7 linked regions of the Homo sapiens genome follow. The protein of the gene in region 1 purifies or fractionates together with the protein of each later gene. This does not show direct contact. Each region holds a gene or a part of one and is shown in the gene's direction. Other genes may lie near its edges.

Region 1 (3,500 bases):
TCATAGCTAAGTTCACAGAGCTGATAAGCAATGTGATTAAGATTTGACGCCTGAATATGCAAGGTCAGGACCCTCCCCTGGGCTTCATCAATACGTCATCCCACCTTTCCAGGAATTACTCCCTTCTGTGAATCACCAGTGGAAATTTTTCTTCTTCCAACCACTCTGTCCAAGTCAGTTTCTTGATCTATCAGTTCTTTCAGAAGAGAAAATGGAATTATTTGTCATGATTTGTTTTCAAAGGACTTAGGCTTACTCCTCTGAATGTCTACTTCTCTTCTAACTACTCATTTCTTCCTTGTATGAGATTGTATATAGCACAGCAGTGTGGGCTTGAGATGAACAAGATCACAGAACTCTATCAAGGTGACTTTTTCAAATGCCTACAGCCCTTTAAAAAGCAAGATTGATATAATGATAATATGTTTATATAGGAGTTTGTTCTTACCCTTTAAAAACACTTACTGAAGTACTTAAGGGAGATATGTTCATGTCTATAATTTACTTTTTTAAAAAATATAGCAAAAATAAATACATGAAGCAATGACAATGTGCTAATTGGTAAATCTCAGTAATGGGTTTTTATCTTTAATTATGTGAAAAGTTTTACAATAAAGGGTAAAAAAAACACAGCCAAGTAAAAGAGTAAGTAATGATTATATAATAGAGATTGAGGTAGTGAATACTAAGAAATAATCACTTATCTACTTCTATTCTCATTAAAGCAGACACTGATGAGTTTACCAAATGAGACAGGCATGGTGTTGAACACTTTTCATCCACTGTCTCCATTAATCCACAGCAATCCTATGAGGTTGGGATTATTCTCTCCATTTTGGATGAGAAAACTGAGATTGGAAGAAATGAAATGGCTTGTTTCAGAGTACTCTTAACCAAGGCAGTGCACTCTCTTTGCCTTAGGGAAAGCTGTGCAGAAGTGGCTGACTTGAAAGAATTCAGGATAGCCAGGAGTAGGCAGGTTGGGTAGGTGAAGGCACCAAGGGAATGATAAAATGGATGAATGGGGAGAAGGCTAACAATAGCAGGTCCCAATGAGGCCTGAAGATTTCAGTGAAGTGATGAGGTTGAGGTTGGGGAAGTAAAAGTACTAGGGAGTGGTTTGTTTTATGACTCTACTGGTACATGTCATGTATGTAAGAGGTATGGGGCATAATTGATGACTACTGAAATTTCCAAGAATGAGGATGCAATTGGCATAGATGGGAAGAAGATGTAAGTAGGAGTGGGAAGGATATATTTTAGGCAGGAGTTCTTGCCTTGTTAAGAAATCACAACATACCAGCTATCCCATTCAATTCTTTATTTTTTCTTTCTTCTTCTTTCTTCTTCTTCTTTTTTTTTTTTTTTTTTTTTTTGTTGTTGTTGTTGTTGTTGCTGTTGAGATGCAGTCTCGCTCTATCACCAGGCTGGGGTGCAGTGGCACAAACTGCAACCTCTGCCTCCCGAGTTCAAGCGATCTCCTGCCTCAGCCTCCTGAGTAACTGGGATTACAGGCACCTGCCACCAGGCCCAGCTAATTTTTGTATTCTTAGTAGAGACAGGGTTTCACCATGTTGGTCAGGCTGGTCTTGAACTCCTGACTTCAAACAATCCACCCGCCTCGGCCTCCCAAAGTGCTGAGATTACAGGCGTCATCCACCATGCCCAGTCTATCCCATTCAATTCTAAGGCTGATCAGGAGAAAGGTTACTAACAACAACTCCCCAGTCTATAAGATTGTTTTGACAAAGGGAAAAGGATTTTAATTAATTAATTTTAGCATCTCCAAAATAATTCACTACTTTTTAATAAGTATTTCCTTTGAGTAAAGGGTACTGGCCTGGATTCCAACTAGAATTCAATTTTAAAAGACATTTTGCTAATTGGGCAGGGGGAAAAGTCCTATCTAAGAAAATGCGGTCAAATGTGTGCTGTGTTGGAATTCTGCTGGTGGCTTGGGGAGTGGGTGTGAGCAAAGCAAATAATTTTTGTAAAATTGAAATTAGCTTATTTCAGTTTATAGCTTTTCACTTAATTTTCAAATACAAGTGGCTATTTCTAAATGAAGTAAAATAGTGTAAATTGTCCTACTCATCCAGTAAATACAAAAACAAACAACTGTGAGCCAGGTCGGCGGGGAGGTGGGGGGGGTCCCTATCCAAAGCTTGCTTTTACATCTCCCTTCAGTTCTCATTAAAGTAAGTACCAAAGATCAAACAAACCCAGGACCCATGCTGAAGGCTAGGGCTCAAGTTGTTTACTTCATCTGTGCCAGAAGCCTGCTTGGCCACCAGGCTGGGATGCAGTCACATGGGTTGAAGGATAATAAATAATCCTATTTCACCCTCCCAGATCTCCATCAAGAGCCACCAGGGAGCAGTAGATCACTAAGTCACTCACCCGGCTGCCTCTGGTTAGACATTTGCTTGAAAACAAATGGGAAAGCTTATAGAAGGGGAAGAAGGAAGGAGAAAGAATAATGGCACCAATAATTCACATCTGTGTGGCATTTTGATTCTCAAAGGGCTTCACATATATGCTTGTTTTTATCTTGCCTTTTCATGAGCAGGACGCGCATCATTAGTCTCATTGTACAGAAGAGGAATCCAAGACCCAGAAATGCTAAGGCAGGAATTTGTTCTAAATCATCCAGCTTGTTCAGAACATGGGCTAGGAGGACAAATGCCCCTGTTTGAATCCTGGCTTTACCACTTATGAGTTATGTGACCTTGGATGTTACTTAACCTCTCTGTGACCCCATTTCCTTTTCTGTAAAATGGAGCAAAGGATAGTATCCATCTCAAAGCTTGCTGTGGGGATCAAATGATAGATTGTATGTCAAGTGCTAAGAACATTTTTGGCACAAACTATTTGATAAATACTGCTATTATATTTGTAGAATGTCTTATGGTTCACACAAAGTGTATTCAGTTCAACTACATTTATTAAACACCAGAGCCAGGCACTGTGCTAAATTCTGGAGATGCTAGAAAAAATCACTTATGATCCCACCATGCTTTGGGTCACAGGGAAATGTAAGAGATAAGTGGAAATACACCGACACATTTGGTATAAAGTGTTATTTTTAAGCAACAAAGGTAATTAGAGGGAGAATTTAGCCCAGTCTGGGAGTATTAGAAAGGACTCCCTGAAGGAAAATACTTTTCTAGCTTTACCTTTGCTAAACACCCTCTGGAAAAAAAGTGTAATTTTTGTCTATTCTATGAATGCATGGAAAAAAGCTCAGATAAGTTAAAGGACTTCCCAAAGTCCCTCAGTGAATGGCAAAGTGGTGTCTCAGTTATGCTACCCCATCCCAAGGATACATTTCCTGTGAATAAAGTCATTAAGTAATAAGCTGTTTTTTTTCTTTTCTCCCACTATCTTTCTTGCCTAAAAGGAAACAAAAACTATATTTCTTTCTGCAACCCCCCTTTTTGCCCTGAAAAATTTGGCACGGTGCCAAATTCTGTAAAATCCACCATCTGCTAAGAGTCACA
Region 2 (3,500 bases), on another chromosome or scaffold:
CTGCCCTTTCTGCCTTCTAGATGGGATAAGGAGAAGGTGGATGTATTCCTGCCAAGTCTTTGCCGTCATGTCTCCAGACCTGGATAAAATTTGTGTGTGTTTTCTGAGGCACCTTACTATTCTATGATCCAAACTGGGCAGAAACCAAGTTTTGGGCAAAAACAAAGGAAATGGTTTCAAATGTTTCTGTCAAGACCAGTATTTTTGTACCACATTCATTCATTTATAAACTCTCTAATTTACTGTGGTACATTCAAGGAAAAAAGGAAAGGTTTGTCCCTATCTACTGATGCAAACCAGCAATTTATGGGGTGGAGAGGAAAAGAGCAAGGGCCTGGAGAAACCTCTGGAAGAGAGAGGGTCTTGTCCTCTGTACTTTCTGTATTCTGTGCTTCAGCCACACAGAATGACATATCATCCATAAACAGACTGTGCCTTTTATTTCACATGACAACAGACATATAAAACTACTATAGAGAATGTGAAGACAAGAAATGAAAATTAAATTGAGCTACCCTTTTCTATCCAACACATGGGACAAAGCATCTTAAAATAAACTCTGATTGTACCAAATGTCAGGATGGGAATTGACCGTTGATGGAAGCACAGTGTCTTTGGAGAACAATTTAATAATATCTACTGGAATTGAGAATCCGCATGTCCTGTAATCCTAGATATGTGCATGAATAGCACTCTCAAATTTCTGTTCCTTCCTTTTTAGTTTTTTGAAATCCTGTTTATTGTTTAAGTCTAGCTCCTAGGAAATTCTTCTCCTGGCTATTTTTGTTTGGTTCTTTTTATTTTTAACTTCTTAATGTAGCTGGTTTATACAAATCATATTTACTTTGTACTATAGGTCCTTATGTTTAATAAATTGTAAACTCTTCAAAGTGAAGGGCTGAGTTTTATTCATTTTTATGCTCTTCAGTATCTACACTGTTGTTTTGCCACAGACATTCTCAGGTTTTGCTTACTGAGTTTCTGGCCTGTTCTGAGAATTATGAAAAGTAGCGTGCAGTCAATGAGGTTGCTAGTTTCTTCTTCCCCCAGAACTTTATCTGAATTCACTGAGCTTCCTTTCTCTGCTTGGGAACCCATATGCTACATGATTTAACAGCTTAGAAGTGAAATATCTGCTGCCTTGTTTCTGAACCATGTTTGGCAACCCTTCTCCACGGGTTGTATTTCCCGCTTTACCTGCTTTACTCAATACAAAGTGGCACCTTCACTATTACTTTCAGGTAGTTGGGTGCCATAATTTTTTTTATTGGTGGTGAAATGGAGATTTGGGATGGTTACATACCTTGCACAAGCTCACATAGGTGGAAAGCAGTAGAAGAGGGGCCTGTGCCCCTTCTTCAGGCTGTGCTTGTCTTTCCTGACCTCATAATTGTTCTCTTGGACTTTTGGGACCTATGAGAAAGAAACAGAAACTGGCCATCAGTGACTTAGAGAAACAAAAGGAAAGCTTTGCTAAAAGGGAAAAGGCATAATTTGCAGGTTATGTAAAAGGAGGAGAAAGGAGTAGGCACAGGCTGAAGGAAAACTGGGCCCTAGGCCAGAGTGGTAAATTATGGCCCATAGGCCAAATCTAGCAGACCCCAAACAGCTACCTGTGTTTGTGTGGTCTGTGAACTAACAGAGATGTTTACATTTTTAAATGGTTGAAAAATATCAAAAGGAGAATAATATATTATGAAACATGAAAATTATATGAAATTAAAGTTTTATTGGCTCTCAGCCACATTCATTTGTTTACTTATTGTCTGGCTGCTTTGGTGCTACAAGGCAGAGCTGAGTAGTAGTTACAGAGACTATGAGGCCTGCAAAGTCTGAGATATTGACTAGCTGGTCCTGTACAGAAAAACTTTGCCGAACCTTGCCTTAGGAGATGACATTCCCACTTAAGTTGTGGCTCATGCCGATCTGCTGCTCTGTGGGAAGGAGCTGGCTTCTGGACAGTAGCAGCTGGCTCTGGGCATTTCAGAGACCTGTTTTTCATTTTAGAATTTGCCGGTGATTCCTGTGGTGTTTTGCGTTCAAACATAGAGTTTCTCTGTTACATCTTTTTAAACACAGCACTTGAAGCTATCAAGACATGTTCTTTGGTGTAAGTAGTGTTCTCATGATCAAAAATGAATTAAAAACACTGATGGCTAGTTGGAAAGGAGATGCATATTTCTTCTTCAGAGCTTGAGTATATTCTAGAAATTTGTTCTAGAAACCTGGTTATGAATTTGTGGCTGAGCTCCTGGGAGGAAATAATTAGCACGTTTATCAATGAGTATTTTTATTTTTCTTTAATCATTGCTATAAATTAGGCTAAACTGAGAATTTGGTGGCTTTTAAAATGACATATTCTTTTTAATTTACATCTTACTCATTTGCATTTGTTGTAGAATGCTTGCCTCCCCAAACTGAACTGAACAGAACTAATTTTCTTTCTTTTTTCTTTTTTTTTTTTTTTTTTGAGACAGAGTCTCGTTCTGTCGCCCAGGCTGGAGTGCAGTGGCGTGATCTCGGCTCACTGCAACCTCTGCCTCCCGGGTTCAAGCAATTGTCTGCCTCAGCCTCCTGAGAAGCTGGGATTACAGGTGCCCGCCACCATGCCCAGCTAATTTTTGTATTTTTTTTTTAGTAGAGATGGGGTTTCACCATCTTGGCTAGGCTGGTCTTGAACTCCTGACCTCGTGATCCAACCCCCTCGGCTTCCCAAACTGCTGGGATTGCAGGTGTGAGCCACCGCGCCTGGCCAATGAAACTAATTTTCAAAGCTATTGAGATTGCAGTTAAAAATAGTTATCTAGAATAGTAGAATTATAGAGACTGTTATTTAATTAATTAATTAATTAATTTATTTATAGACAGGGTCTCACTCTGTAGGTCAGGCTAGAATGCAGTGACGCTATCATAGCTCACTACAGCCTGAAACTGCTGGGCTCAGATGATCCTGCTTATCACCTCAGCCTCCCAAGTAGCTGGGACTGCAACTCTGTTGTTGTTATCTTTATTCTGCTTACCACCTTAAAGCCTACATGTTGCAACCCATATTTGGTAATTACACTACTAAAGATGGTGCAGCAGTACAGAATTGATTACTGCCCGACTGTGTCACAAAGATACCTCTTCAAAAAATAGTTTATAATTTAAAAATGTAGTATCTTCAAATAAGTTTTTGTTTTCAGAGTAACTTTACAAGCAATTCAAAGAGCAAAGATACATCGTTTTTATACACAAAAGGAAGATTTTCATTACAGATTTTCTTTTGTGTATTAAAAGAGGGAAGTGTACTTTTGTTAATTTTAATTTGGTTTTCTTCAAAACAATACAATCAGGTTTATGCATTTACATACTTAGTTACTGATTGACTCATGCATTTTTTTCAGGCCTTGATTGTTTTAGTAGCACATTGTGGCAGATTTAGGAAAATAAAAATCATTTTAAAATTTCTATTAAAATATGGATATACTCCCCCTTTCTTGAATTTATTTCTTAAAGGA
Region 3 (3,500 bases), on another chromosome or scaffold:
ACTGTGTATCCCTGTAAGATTATCTTTAGGATAATTTCCCCACAGTGGAATTGCCAAATCAAATTATATATATATATTTGTAATTTTGATAGATATTGCCACATTTGCCTCCATAGAGGTTGTATCAATACACATACCCGCCAGCAATAATTCCTCACAGGCTTACTAATGGCATGTGTCATCAAACTTTAGGAGTTTTCCATTCTGTTAGATAGTATAGCAGTGCAGTTTTAATATGTATTTCTCTTATTTTGAGTGAGGTTAAGGGTCTTTTTATATATTTCACTGTCTGGTCATTTTTTTTAGGGCTAAGTCTTAAAACAAGTATTTTCTTCATAAATAGAACTGCTAGTACAGTGCCATACTTAGAATTCAGTGAAAACTTGGTTGAACCAGATTTAGCAGTTCTTCACTTTCTGGCATAACAATATGTTCCAGGATCAACTTGTACCTACCTTGCCCCAGCTCTGGAATGAGCCATTTCTCTGAGGAGCACTGGTTTTTCTTAAGGGGCAACTATATTTTAGATCAAGAGCTGGCACTAGGTACGCTCCTTGCTACTGGAGTGTATTTTCTTGGCACCTTAATTGCATGGAGCTAGGAAATATGCATGTCTATACACATAGACACATATATAAACACATACATATTCATATACATGTGAAACATGCATATACATGTTAAATGTACATATTTTAGAAATGCTGAGTTCACACAGATAGTGCTAATTCCCATTCATCTCTAGCAATTTCTTTCTTGCCTTTCACCCTTCCATATTTGTATATTCCTTCTTCCTAAATGAGAGCTGATTTCCAACAACTTCAACAATGTACCCATTTTGCTCAATTCTAGAAGGGCTCGTATTGCGTTGTTTCTGGTGAGCTGTCTTGTATGTATATCCACTGTGTATCCATTACATGTGTCCACTATGTAATACAACTGAAACAATCCAGCATCACTTCACCCATTTCACTATAGTAAATTGTAACTTGTTTTTTAAACGTTAAAAAAATTGATATTTCCTTAAAAATACTTCATAATTAAAAGGAAATTTACCTAAATTAGATTTTTATTGTTTCATAAGTGATCCATTGGAGCAATATACAAGGAATTCTTTCATGTAAGCTTTAGAGCAATTATTTTTAGAAATTCTACTTAAACCTTTGATAAGGATACTATATTAGAGATTTATTAAAAGCAGGATATTTAGTAGTTTTAAGATAATTAAAAAGGGTTTGTTATTGTGCTGATAGTCAACTAGTTATTTAAGATATAACATTAAAATATGCATAAGGCCAGGCATGGTGGCTCATGCCTGTAACCCCAGCACTTTGAGAGGCTGAGTTGGGAGGATCACTTGAGGCCAGAAATTCAAGACCAGCCTGGGCAATATAGTGAGACCCTGTCTCTACCAAAAATTAAAAAAAAAGAAATTAGCCAGGCGTAGTGGTGCACACCTGTTGTCCTAGCTACTTAGGAAGCTGAGGTGGGAGGATTGCTTGAGCCCAGGAGGTCAAGGATGCAGTGATCCATGATTGCACCATTGCTCTCCAGCTTGGGTGACAGAGCAGGACCATGTCTCAAAAAAAAAATGAGAGAGAATTTTTAAAAATATACATGTTAAATTGCATTCCACTCTAGGTTCAAGGACACTACCTTTAACTAGAATAACATACGCAGTATTCATAAAGTAAATATAAGCCTTTATTCTAAAACTTTGGATTTCCTTATAAAATCCTATAGGAATAAATATGAAATCTTTTTCTTGTGTATAATTATTATGTTTCTAGCTTCTAGAAATTGATCATTTACAGTTTTCTTATTTTCTTTCAGATATAGGCATGGACCACCAAGCTCTTCTAAAACAATTTGATCACCTAAACCACCTGAATCCTGACAAGTTTGAATCCACAGATTTAGATATGCTAATCAAAGCGGTGAGAATAATTCCAAAAAGTTTTGTCTTTATTGTGCCTTTGAGGTTTTGTAATTTGACAAGTAAACCCAATGAAATGGAAATATAACTTTTATATATTCTGTAGAAGTTCTTTAAAGGAAGGTAGCTTAACCCTTATTAATACAGATATTAATATGTACATACAGGTCTAAAATCCCTTATCCACAATTCCTAAATCCAAAAGCTGTAAAAACTGAAACCTGGCCTGAATGAACCAATTATAGTAAAACCATTTACAGTTTTTATTTAACCTACTTAGTGTGAATATTTATAGATTTTGCTTAAGAAATACTAGTCTGTTTGATTACAGATGCTACAGGGATATTCCATAATATGGCATATGTACCATATTCCCTTTCTTTAAGGTAGAAAATTCTGAGCACATCTGGCCTCAGAGATTCCAGATAAGAGTTTGTGGACCTCTCACATTATGTGTGAATGGAACTAGTTCTAACCTGGCAGGTATTAGATTAGTTAAATGGTTAGAAGCCATTTTAGTTTTCTGTACTGTCTAGATTTGATAATAGTTCCTTTCTTCTTCTTTTTTTTTTTTAAATCAACTTACATATTACTTGCTTATGAGGAGTTTCCTAAAGTTGGGGCTAGCTTTGAACTTTTAGTTTCTTTGAATACTCTCTGGTAATAATGATGACTAAAATTGCTGGGCATGGTGGCTCATGCCTGTAATCCCAGCACTTTGGGAGGCCAAGGAGGGTGGATCACCCAAGGTCAGCAGTTCAAGACCAGCCTGGCCAACATGGTGAAACCCTGTCTGTACTTAAAATACAAATATTAGCCGGGAGTGGTGGTGAGCGCCTGTAATCCCAGCTACTCGAGAGGCCTCAGGAGGCTGAGGTGGGATAATCGCTTGAACCAAGAGGTGGAGGTGGCAGTGAGCCGAAATCGTGCCACTGCACTCCAGCCTGGGTGACGGGTGAAACTCCGTCTCAAAAAAAAAGAAGAAAAAACTTGACTAAAATGAAATGGTAGAATTTAAAAAGAGGAGTCCAGTATGTTTTTGCCCTCCCGTACCACTTCTGTTCAAGAGTATGCTATATTCAAGAATGGCTTTATTTACATTTTTCAAGTGAATGTTTTTATTTAACTTAAATGCATTATTGCATTTCAGGCAACAAGTGATCTGGAACACTATGACAAGACTCGTCATGAAGAATTTAAAAAATATGAAATGATGAAGGAACATGAAAGGAGAGAATATTTAAAAACATTGAATGAAGAAAAGAGAAAAGAAGAAGAGTCTAAATTTGAAGAAATGAAGAAAAAGCATGAAAATCACCCTAAAGTTAATCACCCAGTAAGGATTGTGACTTTATGAAACCATTTTTAGATAAAGATACTTCTTCGTATCAGCGGATTTTTATTGTGTTATTAGTACTTAAATCTTGATTCTTCTGCCAAGTTCCTCAAATTTATATTTTGAGTCTGTACAGATAGATTATATTTTGTTTTGAGCAATTTTTTAAAATTGGTTCACAGGGAAGCAAAGATCAACTAAAAGAGGTATGGGAAGAGACTGATGGAT
Region 4 (3,500 bases), on another chromosome or scaffold:
AGAACACCAGATTTGAAATCTAGAGAACCTGCCTCCTAGTCTCACCTCTACTCCTAAATAGCCTGCTTACCTTGGGCTTGTCCCTTTTCCTGGGCCGCAGTTTTGCCACCTGTTAACAGTGTGGGGTTGGGCTTGGTGCTCCTAACATCCTCTCTAGCTCAGGCATTCTAAGCACCCTGGGATGCGGGCCATGTTACTTGTAAGGAGGAGCGGGTGGTATACAATGGAAGGGTGTACTGGTGATTGCCTTAGCACAGAAGACTGGGGCTTCACCTTGAATAACTCAGCAACTGGTTCATCACCCCATCTTTGTAAGCACCTCTCTACATGCAGAGCTCCCAGCTAGGAGCCAGGGAGGCCGTGAGGGAGATACAGTTTCCATCTTTAGGAACTAGAGTCAGGTTGGGAGAGAAGAGGCAGGTATGTGTGTGACTCATCAGAAGTTCAATGTGGGGTGTGCTGAGGTCCACAGGAACTGTCCAGCCCTTTAACTTATTGCTCATATTTGCATCCCTAGCAATTAGGGTAGGACCTGGCATGCAAAAGTGACTTGGTGAATGCTTATCTGTCTAATACGGGCATGAGGGTGAGACCCCACAGGCCTGGAAACTCCCCAGAGGAGACAAGCCGCAATGTCCAGGTAGAAGGGAGTGGAGGAGTGACGCAGCCCACGGTGGTACCCAACCATCCCCAAGGCCAACCTCCAGGCTTTCTTATTCCTGTGTCCTGAGGCTGGATGTACTAATTTTGTGGAACCTGTTGCTTTGGATTCAATTTTGCAAACATCCACAGCCTTCTGGTTATGTAATGTCCAGAGTCAGCCCTGGCCAGTTGCCCTTGGCTGCCTAAGCTTGGTCATGAGACCAGCTTATGTCTTCAGACAGCCCTGGGGAGAGAAAAATGGGCAGGGGTGGGGAACCAGCAAGAGCAACAACAACGCAAAAAGCCCACTTTGCAACCTCTGGCAGACAGCGCGGGAATGCCAAAGCATATTAGACCAAAGCAGAGGTTCAGAAAACACACGAACCTGCCTGGTCTGGAACAATCCTCATTACGAGACACTCGGTGGTCAGCAGAGAGCTGAGAGGGAAATAGCTGGGAGGCAGCAGTTCCTAAGCCTGCCTGGTTTCCTTCCTACCATCAGGGCCTGGAGACCAGGGTGACCAGAGGCCCTTCCTGTGGACATAATGTCCCATTCCCCCTTGCTGGTGTCAGACCAGCCACGGGTGGTTGTTTAGAGACCAAACAACACTTGCTAGCCTATCAGCATCAGACACTCCCACTCCCAGGCTGGTGGGCTTAGAAGACACACTCCCACTCCCAGACTGGTGGGCTTAGGCTTTCGGTTCACCATCCTTCGCCTGAGCTCATGAATCATGGTGCTGGGAATTAGATGTAGGATCCCTCGTCTTACTTCTGACAGAGGCGCAAAGGGGAAATGACTTACTCAGAGTCAAGCATTTAACTAAGGGCAGATCTGATCCCCAAGCTGAGGCATCGGAATTTCTTCCCAATCCTGTGTTCTTTATATGACTCCCAAATCTCCCTGCCATCTTAATCATCAGTCACCATCTCATGCCTTTCATTCACTCTGACCCTCCATAGAGGGTATCATGATCCATAGAACTGGTCAGTGCCCTTCTATCCAGAGACACCACTGGAATCTGCTTGTCTCTAGGTACCAGCCTGCAAGTCAGACAAGATACAGGCTAGAAGTAATAGTCCGTCCATCCATCCTCTCGTGCTTCCTTCCCACCCTCTCTCTGTGCTTAGTACTGTACTATGAACTGGGGATACAAAGATAACACTGCTTATAATTATGATAAGACTTGGCATCAGTTAACATTTACTGAGCAATTGCTTAGTGCCAGGCATTCTGCTAGGTCTTTGCATAGATCAGTACTTATACTAACACTGTAAAATAGATAACACCTTGTCCTCTGTTTGACAGGTGAGGCAACTGAGACCTGGGAGGTCATATAACTGTTAAGATTATATGGCCACAAAGTGGCAAACCTGAGCAAAACTACAGGGTCTTTGCCTATAAGGAGATAATACAGTATGGAGCAGCAGGCTGATTCATCATTCCTACCCACTTTGGGGTATATAAATGCCCACTCCATATGTTTTTAGTTCCCAGGGAACAAAAAGAGGTCAGTTTGGGTTTGTTGGTTTATCATCCAGCAGTGTAGGGCTGGACTTGTAATATCCTGCAAAGGGTGTATCAGAAAAATCTTTGTAGGAGGGAAGAGAGAGAGGCCAGAGAGGCAAGCCTGCATGAGTTTTGGCACTGGTCCCTGGGAGACTTTGTTCTAGCAGATTAGACAGTCTACCCTAGAGAGTCAGAAGGGGTGAGCAAGGGCTTCCTTAGAGCAGGACTAAAGGAACTTGGAGAACCTGAGACTCCGAGCCGCCCTGTCTGACCTCTCTCTTCTCTCACTGATGGAAGGCAGGCAGACCTTCTCCCGTCTGCTAACTCTGGAGCCTCTGACCCATCTCTCAGGAACACTTCAGTACACAGAGACCTGCGATATGTGTGTGTGTGTGAGGGAGCAGGGTGTTAGAATGTTGAGAGAGCTTATTGCAATCCCAAACTTGGAAATTAGCTGGGCTGTGGGGTGAAGGTGAAAGTTTCCAGAACTGGCTGCTCTAAGCTGTGGGGACCTTATCTCCCATCAGGACCATGAGAAACCGATCCACTGTGCCAGGAGTTATTGTTTATGTAGCGGAGACATGCTCTCCAGCTGGCTGCAGGGGACAGAACGTGGGGGACATTATGTCCCAGCTGGTCCTGGGAGGGTCCCATGGGGAGACCCGCTGGTCATGTGCTTTGCATGTCCTGACTGTAGGCAGAGCAGACCTCCAGGGACTTCCTTCCTTTAGTGGTTTGTCTAACCAAATGAGCAATAGCAGGGTCTCGCCTTTGAAGCTCTAGCTGGAAGCATCTTTGACCCCCAGCCCACAGGGAACCATTCTTCTTGCAATGCCCGTGGTTCTTCCTGCCTTAGGACTCTCATCCAGCCCTCTGCAGAGACTGGCTCCATTTCTACATTCTCTGCCTGTCCTGCTAGACAAATTGCTGTATAGAGAAAGATCATGGCCGTGATAGCTCGGTCGGTCTGTAAATAAGAATTTGTGGGTTTAAATGAGTCCGTGATGTACACCAGCATCCAGAACAGTGTTGATCTTTGGTAGGCATGCAAGACATAGTTGGAATCATTGAGGCAACTCATGCTGTCAATGTAGAGTGAAGGCCAGACATTTCATAAGAAATATGCAAATGTCCCCAGACTCAGAAACTTCTTTTTTACTTTATTTGTCCCTTCACTCCAAGGGAAGCTAACATCTTGGAACTTTGTGTAGATGCTACCAAGAAGAAGAAGAGGGGCCCAGAGGCATGCAGAACCCAGCTGAAAAAGAACAACCCACTTATGTCTGAAGTTCTAAACCAGCTTTAACTACTCTTGTTAAGAGCTGAGGAAGGGACTTAGGAGAAAGGG
Region 5 (3,500 bases), on another chromosome or scaffold:
GACAGAAAAATGTCTGTTTGTTCAGGCCTTTATTCCTCTTATCTTACTGTGCACTCCTTTCCCTCCCTCTGGGAAGCCAGCCAGACACACTGAGGAAATGGCTTAGTTTTCTCATGTAAAAACAACAAAATCCATTTTTTGAAAGAATAATATAAAAACGTATGATGAATGGGGAAAAAACCAACTATACAAACATAAATATTACTTCTGTACATTTGTCTTCTACAATTAGCTTTAAAATCATTTTTGTTTGAACAGCTGAGATATTTGGTACTGGCCAGGAAAACTGGAGCTTAGAGAAGGGGTATCTGTTTCCAAGACATTCTCTCTATGGTGTCATTTACAAAAGACTTCAAATCAGCATTAGATTGGGAAGGGGATGAGAGAGACCAGAGCCCAGTGAGCAGAAGATTAACAGTATGTACCTGCCCAGCCCATGTGTCCTTCTCCTTCCTTAATAAGTGGGTGCAGAAATTAGATTTCTGGTAGATGGCCACTGAAATTCTATAAAGTGCTTATGACTGCAAGTTAAGTGGACACCAGTGATGTGGTCTCTTCTGCTGGAACTACATTTTGGAAAATATACCAGAAGCAATAGATCTAAATCAATCCAAGCTTATACAAGTGACTTTTTTCAGGGACAAAGTAGCAGTCTCAGAGTGGGAGCCAACCAAATAGAAGAAAATTAAGAATACACCTCTTACTCTGTTAGAAGAAGAAAATCCTTATGAATAATAAGGAACATAAGGGAGTATCTTTCCCTTCAATGTGCTGTGTGCAGTCCGAGGAATAAGGAATAAGCCCCCACTGTGTGTCTGCAAGGAAGAGGCTATCTGGTTTCTGACTGACTTCCCTGGGTTAGGTTCATACCTAGCACCCAGAAGGTCCTCAGTAGAGACCTATTGAGGTCCAGTAGGCTAACTCTCTGCAGGGTAGCAAAGAATTTGCTCTGAGTTTGTTCCTAACTCTGTAAGGAATAGTTTAAACTATCTTTAACACCAAAGCTGCATGAAAATGGCTGTCTCAGCTGGGCATGGTGGCTCATGCCTGTAATCCCAGCAGTTTGGTAGACTGAGACAGGAGGATTGTTTGAGGCCAGAAGTTCGAGACCAGTTTGGGCAACGTAGTAAGGCCCCATCTCTTATTTAAAAATAAATAAAATATTTATTTTTTTGAGACGGAATTTTGCTCTTGTCACCCAGGCTGGAGTGCAATGGCATGATCTCGGCCCACGGCAACCTCCACCTCCTGGGTTCAAGCGATTCTCCTGCCTCAGCCTCCCCGGTAGCTAAGATTACAGGCGTGCATCACCACACCTGGCTAAATTTTGTACTTTTAGTAGAGACAGGGTTTCACCATGTTGCCCAGGCTGGTCTCGAACTGACCTCCAGTAATCCACCCACCTCAGCCTCCCAAAGTGCTGGGGTTACAGGCGTGAGCCAAAGCACCCAGCCTAAAATGAAATCATTTAAAAAAAGAAAATGGCTGTCTCTTTAGAACTATCAATTTATCCATTTATTGGGTACAGTCTCTTGGGGACATGGAAGTGCTAGAAGTAATCCAGGAGAGCTGGCTGTGAAAAAGTTCACTGTGAGGAGACATTGTACACATAGCAATCTGGATGTGTCTCAGATGCAGGGCTCAGAGTGATGGAGGCCATACTGAAAAGGCCACATGCTGAGTGACATATGTATTTATGGGACATCCTGGAAGAGACAGACTACAGAAACAGAGATCAGTGGGTGCTGGGGATCAGGGGGGCAGGGGTTGAGTACAAAAGTACACTGGGGAAATTTCCAGATGATGGAAATATTCTGTTTTTTTTTTTTTTTTTGAAATGGAGTCTCGCTCTGTTGCCCAGGCAACCTCCGCCTCTCGGGTTCAAGTGATTCTCCTACCTCAGGCTCCCAAGTAGCTGGGACTACAGGCATGTGCCACCATGCCTGGCTAATTTTTGTATTTTTAGTAGAGACAGGTTTCACCATGTTGACCAGGCTGGTCTCAAACTCCTGACCTCCGGTGATCCACCCGCCTCAGCCTCCAAAGTGCTGAGATTACAGGTGTGAGCCATTGCGCCTGGCCGAAGTATTCTGTATCTTGATGGCAATGGTAGTTACCCAACTATGGATTTGTTAAGACTTGCAGAGTTCTACATTAAGGAGGTGTATGTACACCACTCCTCAATTTTTTTATTTTTATTTATTTATTTTTTTGAGATGGGTGCCTCACTCTCTCCCAGGCTGGAGTGCAATGGCACGATCTCGGCTCACTGCAACCTCTGCCTCCCAGGTTCAAGCGATTCTCATGCCTTAGCCTCCTGAGTAGCTGAGATTACAGGCACACACCACCATGCCTGGCTAATTTTTGTATTTTTAGTAGAGATGGGGGTTTCTCCATGTTGGCCAGCCTGGTCTTGAACTCCCGACCTCAAGTGATCCGCCCACCTCAGCCTCCCAAAGTGCTGAGATTACAGGTGTGAGCCACCGCACCTGGCCACCTTAATTTTTTTTAATGGGGAAAAATATGTTTGTAAAAAAAGTCTTGATGCACATTTTACAAGAAGAAAGAGACGCTGTGAGAGCCAAATAGTGAGCTGAGTGATGCTGGTGTTGATTCCCTCCAGAGACAGTGGTGTCTAGAAGTTGGCTCTTCCTTTAGTCAGTTGTGGCATTGCTGTTATCAATTTTGTAGCAAGGGTGGTCTAGGATGCAGGACTTCTTATAGCCCACTGGCAACGGCAGAGGTGATCTGGGGTGTTACTGATTAAATGTAGTCTTTTAGGAAAGCAGAGATCAAGAGCAGGGAGCAGGCAGACCTAAGTTGGACTCTGGCCCCCAGCCCCCTAACTTCCAGCTCGTCCAAGTCACCTCCTTCTCTAAGACTCAGTTTTCTTGCGTGCAAAGTGCAGGTGAAAGCAGTTGTATTGCTTTGGGGATTCAGTGAGCTATAGTGGCTCTTAGCACAGTGTTTGGTACTTAGCAAGTGCTCAGCAAATGGCAATAGCTGCTGAAGTGACAGTGTCATCACATGTTAACATCCCTATGATGGGTCGTGTGGGAGTAATCACTGTTTTTCTTTGATTCTGCTTAGGGCAAGCAAGCTCCACATATGCGGAACAAACTGGAAAGCTGACCGAATTTGTGTCTAACCTGGCGTGGGATTTCGCAGTCAAAGAAGGGTTCCGGGTTTTCAAAGAGATGCCCTTCACAAATCCGTTAACAAGGTCCTACCACACGTGGGCCAGGCCCCAGTCCCAGTGGTGCCCCACAGGCAGCAGGAGTTATAGCTCCGTTCCAGAAGCTTCCCCAGCTCATACCTCAAGGGGAGGTCTGGTTATCTCTCCAGAGAGCCTCTCTCCACCTGTCAGAGAGCTGTATCACCGGCTGAAGCACTTCATGGAGCAACGTGTGTACCCTGCAGAGCCAGAGCTGCAGAGTCACCAGGCCTCAGCAGCCAGGTGGAGCCCCTCCCCACTGATCGAAGACCTCAAGGTAAAGCAG
Region 6 (3,500 bases), on another chromosome or scaffold:
GCCTTACAAAATATTTTTTATTCTTCAAATATTTTTAAGGGAACAATAGCAGCCACAGCATCATCAACAACAATGATAGCTGTCTTTTTTTATGTTTTTTTAATTTTTTTTCTAATGGTCTAGGCCCTTGGCCAGGGCCTTTACATGGGTTATCTCATTTATCTTTCCCAAAGATGCTACAAGATAGAAATTACTATGCCCAAGAGGAGGAAAGTGAAGCTAAGAGATTAGAGAACTCGGACTGAGGTTTGATTCCTGCTTTTAAGCTTCGGAATTGCTGGTATACATGACTGAAGCCAGTCATCAGGAATAGACTTCAAACCTGCTCCCAGCCTATTATCTCCCTCCTAGACCTGAAAGGGCTCACAGCTCCCCACATGTGGTGGGCTTCTTGTCCTTTTATCAAATATATCCCCATTACACAAGGAGAACACTCTAAAATTCCCTTCCTTCAGGTGCCTCTGGAAGAGAAAAATGCCCCATGGCTAGGAAACACCGTGAGCTTCACTCGCCTCTAGCCCTGTCCCCCATTAGAGAGAGTTTGCTGGCCTCAGGAATCGGTGGGGAATGGGGCCCATTCCTAGTTTATAAGGCTATAATGCATGCCTGGAGCACAGGAATTCTATCTTTCTTGGAGAAAAGTATTCTTTGGGAAAACTGAAGGTTGGAAGTCCCACCCCCTCCCCTTAATTTAAGAAGAAGGTAAAGCTCTCTGGCGTTCTAGTGTCTCCTTCTTGGGAATGTGGCCCTCGGGGCCATGGTCTCCTCACACCATTCAGAATGAGCCTATGACCCCCCACCCCAGCCTGCTCTGGAAATGCAGGCAGCCCATATAAGAAGCCTGGTCACATGCTGTTCCTCTTGCTTCCCCCTAAGTCAGCATCTCTAGGCAGGGGTCTCCCCTAACTCCAGCTTCCCAAAAACCCCCATTACCTTTCCTTCTGAAGCCATGATGTGGCGGTGCATCGACTTGTACTTCTAGCTGAACTGCCTGTTTTTTAGGTTTTTTTTTCCCAACCATCTTAACTGATTAAAGTATCCTATCAGTCCCCAAATATCAAGAAGCCCATTTCCAAATGTGTGGCATTGGTCAAAAAAAAAAAAAAAGAGAGAACTGAATTTGCTTTTCACTTTAGAGATGAGGAAATCACAGTCACCCCAGAATCTGCACCACCCCCATTCTTCAACCCAACCCCCATCCACACCAGAACACTCACCCCCAGTTAATGCTGCTCTTTTCAAGCTCTTCCTCTCCGCTCCCCTCACCCCTTCCTGCCCGCCCCACTTTCTGCACAGCATCTGTCTCCCCCTAGCTGCCGCCTGCCTGGTTTTACCCCCACTCGCCATGTCACTGGGTGCTGGCAGGCTCCAGGCACATCCCCCTCCAAGTATTTTTTAAAATCCTTTAGGCTTGCTGACACCCAGTTGAACGAGCTGGACTTTGTCATTAGACACGGGCTGAGCTTGCAGCCTCAGAAGGCACCAGGCCAGCTCGGAACACGGCTTGGATTAACTTGGTTCGGCACACACACCCCTCCCCGCAGTTCACAGCTTCCTCCTGGAGAGAGAGAGGGCCAAGGGCAGAGGACAGCATGGGCTCATCCAGCCTTCTGGGATCCAGATCCGCCCTGGGCTTCTGGGGGCTCATCTGGCAGACAGAACGCCCTGGCCGGGAAGGCGAAAGACAGTCTGCATATTCCCAAGACAGCCCTCCCCTTACTCTGGGGAAAGGAGCTTGAAGACAGCATCCAGTTAGTATCTCAGAAAGACAGACCCTCACCCCTGCAGTGTGCTCACCTAGCCCTGGTGCCGCGGCAGGCACAGTCAGGTGCTAAAATCCTGTTGCTGCTTTAGCAGACACACTCGGTGAACTTGAGCTCCGGAGGCAGTTTCTAGTTTTCAAAAAATAGAAGGAAACAAGCACGCGTGGAGCATTTCCCTCATATTGCCTCCTGCATGCCCACCTGCCCACCTCAGGGCAGTCCAAGGGACAGGGTTAGGTTGTCTTGCGCTGTCAGGGGCCTGCCTTAGGGGGTTTAAAGCCCTTTGCCCAGCGGCCATGCACAGACTTGCTGACTCCAAAGTCATCAAGCAGGCCCTAAACAGCAGCTGGATCTCTCTCAGCCAGAGCATTCCTCCTCTCTGCTCTGCTCTCAGCCAAGCCCTGGGCCCTGAAGCCCAGAAGCTTCCAAGAGCCACCTTCTCCCTGCTTTTCTCAGTTTTTGCATCCATGAGGTGAGGACAGTTCACTCAATTCCAACTTGAGGAATAATTAATAAAAAGGCAGTAAACTACTTCACACATCTCAAAACACAGTCTGCTCTTTCCACATAGCAACAACTGCCAACTTGCAAAGAAAAGGCTCCATGGGCTGTAACGCAGCCTCTCTGGTGGCCCAGACTTAGGGAGGACAAATCAGATTGCTCCTTGTTATGAATGACCTCACATTCCATGGTGACTTCCCTGCTCAAGGTGATGGCCCAAAGCTGCAATGCTTGTGGTCAGATAGATCAGAAACTTTGCCAGCGAGGACTGCCTAGGAATGCTGGTTAGCCATGTGAAACATTCTATACCCCCCTTGGGGGGTTTTAAAGGCCAGTGAGAGGTTAAAATAAAAGCTCAGTGAGTGGCCCATGAGAGCCCATTGCTGGGGACACTCTTTACCAGATGGGCCCATAAATATAAAAAGCAGATGCTCCTGCCTTCTGCACACCTTGTCCACCCCCTGGAGTAAATTATTCCAGTGGTTTTCCTACAGAACAACCCAAGACAACCGGAATGGCCTGAGGAACTGGCTCTGCCCTCCAGAACTAGGCGAGTTCATTGCACAGTGAGCTGTCTCTCAGTCCAGACACAGGGGCCCCTGACCGCCAGCCTTCAACTCCAAATCTAAGGAAGCCCAGACTGAAAGAATAAAGATGCTCAGATGGCCACACCTACTCCCCAGCCTCTGCTACTGAGAAAGGGAATCACTGCATGCACGGGCAATGACGTCCCAGGGACATGGTCTTCCTCCCTCCCACTTCAGCTCTTCCATACTCCTCCAGATGCAGAGGAAATGCATCCAATAACTTCCAAAAACACCCTTCTTCATCAGAAGCCTAAACCCGGGGCAAACACAAACATGGGGAAAATGGTTTCTTGGGGGCTTCTCATAGAGGGCACGTGGTCCTAAACCTTCATGGTTTCCTCTTCCCTACCAAAAAGAATCCTCTGTTTGGAAGTCTATGTAAGGCCCTGCACCATTTGCCTAATTATGATTCCACTGGACCCCAGAGCCATCTCCACTCTAGCTGAAACTCACCTAGTTAGTGTAGCCTAAAGGCACCCAGAGCTCTCCTGCCATTATTCACGCAGCCACCTGGATTTCTCACCATCCCCAGAGGGTCTTCCTTTTAGGGTCCTAAGCTCTTACCCTATGCACCTGTGAGCCTGGGACACAGTGGCCACCCAATAAGTGTTGGTTGAGGCCAGTACTCCATAGACTATGAGAAAAGGCT
Region 7 (3,500 bases), on another chromosome or scaffold:
GTCCCCCTGCTGAGGAGCTGGGAAAAGACAGTAGAAGACTTCTAAGGTAGACGGAGAGCGGGTGGAGACGGGGGAGAACTGGAGAGGAAGCCGGGGAGGCAGAGGAGAGTAGGGCAGGGTAGGAGGGGGCATTTGAGACCCAAGACACGTTTTGGTGGCCTGCCCACTACTGAGGCTATCTCACCCTCTTCTTGCTCAGCTCTGGGACATTGGGGGACAGCCGCGTTTCCGCAGCATGTGGGAGCGCTACTGCCGAGGAGTGAGCGCCATCGTGTAAGTACACGGGAGGCATCGCCAGACTCCAGCCTTACCCGGCCCCCCTAGCCCTGCTACCTTCGAGGACCTCAGAGGCGCAGGGTTTTATTAGACATAATCCTTGGTTCATGACACAGTGTCGGTCCAGGGCCTGCGTTTATTTTGCATGCCACTTGTTTCTTATTGGATAAATGCCCTGGGCACTCACTACCCAATCTAAGAAACAGACTATAGACTATTAACCAGCCAGATGCACCTGTGCATCCTCTTCATTGACTTGTCTCCCTCCCCTCAACCCAAAGTCACCACTGTCTTGAATTTTGTGTGGTTTAAATGATTCTTTTTTTTTTTTTTGAGACGGAGTTTCGCTCTTGTTGCCCAGGCTGGCGTGCAATGGTGCGATCTCGGCTCACCACAACCTCCTGCCTCCCAGGTTCAAGCGATTCTCCCACTTCAGCATCCCAAGTAGCTGGGATTACAGGCATGCGCTACCACGCCTGGCCACTTTTGTATTTTTAGTAGAGACAGGGTTTCTCCATGTTGGTTAGGCTGGTCTTGAACTCCCGACCTCAGGTGATCTGCCTGCCTCGGCCTCCCAAATTACATGCATGAGCCACCGCGCGCAGCCCTCTCTTGCTTTTTAAAAATAATGTTTTTTTTGGCTGAGCATGGTGCCACACACCTGTAATCCCAGCTACTTGGGAGGCTGAGGCAAGAGGATTGCTTGAGCCCAGGAGTTTAGGGCCAGCCTAGGCAACATAGCAAGATCCTGTCTTTAAAAAAATAAAATAAAATAAATTTTAAACATTGAAAAATGGCAGGGCATGGGCTGGGCGCGGTGGCTCACGCCTGTAATCCCAGCACTTTGGGAGGCCGAGGTGGGCGGATCACGAGGTCAGAAGATCGAGACCATCCTGGCTAACACAGTGAAACCCTGTCTCTACCAAAAATACAAAAAAAATTAGCTGGGCGTGGTGGCAGGCGCCTGTAGTCCCAGCTACTCGCGAGGCTGAGGCAGGAGAATGGCGTGAACCCAGGAGGCGGAGCTTGCAGTGAGCCGAGATCGCATCACTGCACTCCAGCCTGGGCGACAAAGCGAGACTCTGTCTCAAAAAAAAGGAAAAGAAAAGAAAAGAAAAATGGCAGGGCACAGGGGGAGGCCAAGGCAGACGGATTACTTGAGGTCAGAAGTTCAAAACCAACCTGGGTAACATGGTGCAACCCTATCTCTACAAAAGTACAAAAATTAGCTGAGCCTGGTAGCACGCACCTGTAGTCCCAGCTACTCAGACGACTGAGGTGGGAGGATCTCTTGAGTCCAGGAAGCCGAGGCTGCAGTGAGCTGTAATTGCACCACTGCACTCCACCCTGGGTGACAGTGAGACCCTGCCTCAGAAAATAATAGGCTGGATGCGGTGGCTCATGCCTGTAATCCCAGCACTTTGGGAGCCCGAGACGAGTGGATCACAAGGTCAGGAGATTGAGCCCATCCTGGCTAACATGGTGAAACCCCATCTCTGCTAAAAATACAAAAAATTAGCCGGGCGTGGCGGCATGTGCCTGTAGTCCCAGTTACTTGGGAGGTTGAGGCAGGAGAATCGCTTGAACCTGGCAGGCGGAGGTGGCAGTGAGCTGAGATTGCACCACTGCACTCCAGCCTGGCAACAGAGCGAGACTCCATCTCAAAAATGATATTAATAATAATAATAAAATTTATTCTATATATATATGCCCAAACAATAGATTGTTTAGAATACACAATAGGTTGCTTTTTAACCTGATAACAAAAAGTATCTTGCTAAAAGAAATCTTCTAAGGTTTCCTTTGCTTTTTTCACTCTAACCTTATTTAGTCTTTCCATGAAAACATAAGTGGGTCACTTTGAGAGGGACTTACAGCTAATCTCAAAGGGCCCACGCTTTTCCACATGAGTAACGGCTTCCCCAGAGTAGCACTTGGAGGCTAATGGCAGGCCTAAGGAGTCCCTGCAGCTGTTCACTCCCATAGACTCAGAAAACATCCGCGGAGCACCTGCCTTGAGCCAGGCCAGGTAGCCCATGGATCCCGAGGTGACCAAGCTGCAACAGATGCTTTCACCTCCAAGCAGCAGCTCCTTCTCTTCCTTGCACCACCTCAGCCTGTGGTGTCAACATGCTTGTCCCCACCCTGCCTCTTTCCCCAGGTACATGGTGGATGCTGCTGACCAGGAGAAGATTGAGGCCTCTAAGAACGAGCTCCACAACCTACTGGACAAACCTCAGCTGCAGGGCATCCCGGTCAGCAGACCTGAGGGAGCGGGATGGGGAGGGAGCTCGGCTGGGAAGTCACTGGGAGCAGGTAAAAGCCAGGCATGGTAGGGGCGCAGAGAGGAAACGGGACCCAGGAGGCCAGCTCACCACCCAGACAACCTGGGCACGGCTGCCCTAGACCTCATCCTCACCCTCCCTTCTCCGTAGGTCTTAGTCCTGGGTAACAAGCGAGACCTTCCGGGAGCATTGGATGAGAAGGAGCTGATTGAGAAAATGTGAGTTGGGTGACTCTATATTACTTTCTGCTCTCCCAATTCCCCAACCACCAGACCAACAGCCTAGGCTTGCTGCTGTTCTTAGTATTAGCCACACGGTGGCAGCAGAGCCGACCTTTTCAGGCACCTCACCCTCCCCTTTGTAGCCTCTTAGGTAAGAAAAAGGCCCCGCTGTCCCCTAGCCCCAGGCCCCCTGGACGTTCGTAGCCTCAGCGGACTCTACTCTGGTTTCCCCCAGGAATCTGTCTGCCATCCAGGACCGAGAGATCTGCTGCTACTCCATCTCTTGCAAAGAAAAGGACAACATTGGTGCGTAGGATGGGGGAAAGGGAGGAGAGGGGAGAGGCATTTCTGAGTGTTTTAGTGGCTCTCAGGTTCTCGCTCCACAACTTTCCCTGAAGTCCAAAGCCCTGTGGCTCTTGGGTAGAAAAGGCAGCCAGGTGGCCCAGATTCTGGGCACTATCCCAGCTTGTCGCCAAGCGGTTGTGTGATCTCGGGCAAATCGATCCCCGCTCTGGGCTTCACCTCCTCGTTTCTAAGATTCCAGGGCTGGACCCGGTGATTCTCAGGTCCCTGCTGGCTCTGACATGCTGTGGCTCTGTCTCTTTCCCAGCACCTGAATTCCGCTACTACTCATTCAGGGCCATGTGGCGCTTGCCAGCTCTGGACTTCTTGTTTGTTTTTGAGAAAGTGTCTCGCTCTGTCACCCAGGCTGGAGTTC

Evidence for each region.
Region 2: the proteins of COLEC10 (region 1) and PLOD2 purify together in Homo sapiens (affinity purification with mass spectrometry; one large-scale study listed by BioGRID and IntAct). This does not show direct contact.
Region 3: the proteins of COLEC10 (region 1) and NUCB2 purify together in Homo sapiens (affinity purification with mass spectrometry; 3 studies listed by BioGRID and IntAct, with this or other methods). This does not show direct contact.
Region 4: the proteins of COLEC10 (region 1) and TIMP3 purify together in Homo sapiens (affinity purification with mass spectrometry; 2 studies listed by BioGRID and IntAct, with this or other methods). This does not show direct contact.
Region 5: the proteins of COLEC10 (region 1) and ACAD10 purify together in Homo sapiens (affinity purification with mass spectrometry; one large-scale study listed by BioGRID and IntAct). This does not show direct contact.
Region 6: the proteins of COLEC10 (region 1) and STC2 purify together in Homo sapiens (affinity purification with mass spectrometry; 2 studies listed by BioGRID and IntAct, with this or other methods). This does not show direct contact.
Region 7: the proteins of COLEC10 (region 1) and ARL8A purify together in Homo sapiens (affinity purification with mass spectrometry, with the first as the bait; one large-scale study listed by BioGRID). This does not show direct contact.

What each region holds. Positions count from the first base shown.
Region 1 is NC_000008.11:119,084,247-119,087,746, forward strand, and holds part of COLEC10 (collectin-10 isoform 1 precursor), read left to right. Parts: intron 1-3,500. UniProt on the Homo sapiens protein: Lectin that binds to various sugars: galactose > mannose = fucose > N-acetylglucosamine > N-acetylgalactosamine. Acts as a chemoattractant, probably involved in the regulation of cell migration.
Region 2 is NC_000003.12:146,154,685-146,158,184, reverse strand, and holds part of PLOD2 (procollagen-lysine,2-oxoglutarate 5-dioxygenase 2 isoform 1 precursor), read left to right. Parts: intron 1-3,500. UniProt on the Homo sapiens protein: Forms hydroxylysine residues in -Xaa-Lys-Gly- sequences in collagens. These hydroxylysines serve as sites of attachment for carbohydrate units and are essential for the stability of the intermolecular collagen cross-links.
Region 3 is NC_000011.10:17,307,739-17,311,238, forward strand, and holds part of NUCB2 (nucleobindin-2 isoform 1 preproprotein), read left to right. Parts: intron 1-1,833; coding exon 1,834-1,937; intron 1,938-3,086; coding exon 3,087-3,272; intron 3,273-3,454; coding exon 3,455-3,500. UniProt on the Homo sapiens protein: Calcium-binding protein which may have a role in calcium homeostasis. Acts as a non-receptor guanine nucleotide exchange factor which binds to and activates guanine nucleotide-binding protein (G-protein) alpha subunit GNAI3.
Region 4 is NC_000022.11:32,850,205-32,853,704, forward strand, and holds part of TIMP3 (metalloproteinase inhibitor 3 precursor), read left to right. Parts: intron 1-3,500.
Region 5 is NC_000012.12:111,741,553-111,745,052, forward strand, and holds part of ACAD10 (acyl-CoA dehydrogenase family member 10), read left to right. Parts: intron 1-3,090; coding exon 3,091-3,491; intron 3,492-3,500.
Region 6 is NC_000005.10:173,318,415-173,321,914, reverse strand, and holds part of STC2 (stanniocalcin-2 precursor), read left to right. Parts: intron 1-3,500. UniProt on the Homo sapiens protein: Has an anti-hypocalcemic action on calcium and phosphate homeostasis.
Region 7 is NC_000001.11:202,134,738-202,138,237, reverse strand, and holds part of ARL8A (ADP-ribosylation factor-like protein 8A), read left to right. Parts: intron 1-199; coding exon 200-273; intron 274-2,437; coding exon 2,438-2,531; intron 2,532-2,711; coding exon 2,712-2,779; intron 2,780-3,017; coding exon 3,018-3,088; intron 3,089-3,500. UniProt on the Homo sapiens protein: Plays a role in lysosome motility. In neurons, mediates the anterograde axonal long-range transport of presynaptic lysosome-related vesicles required for presynaptic biogenesis and synaptic function. May play a role in chromosome segregation.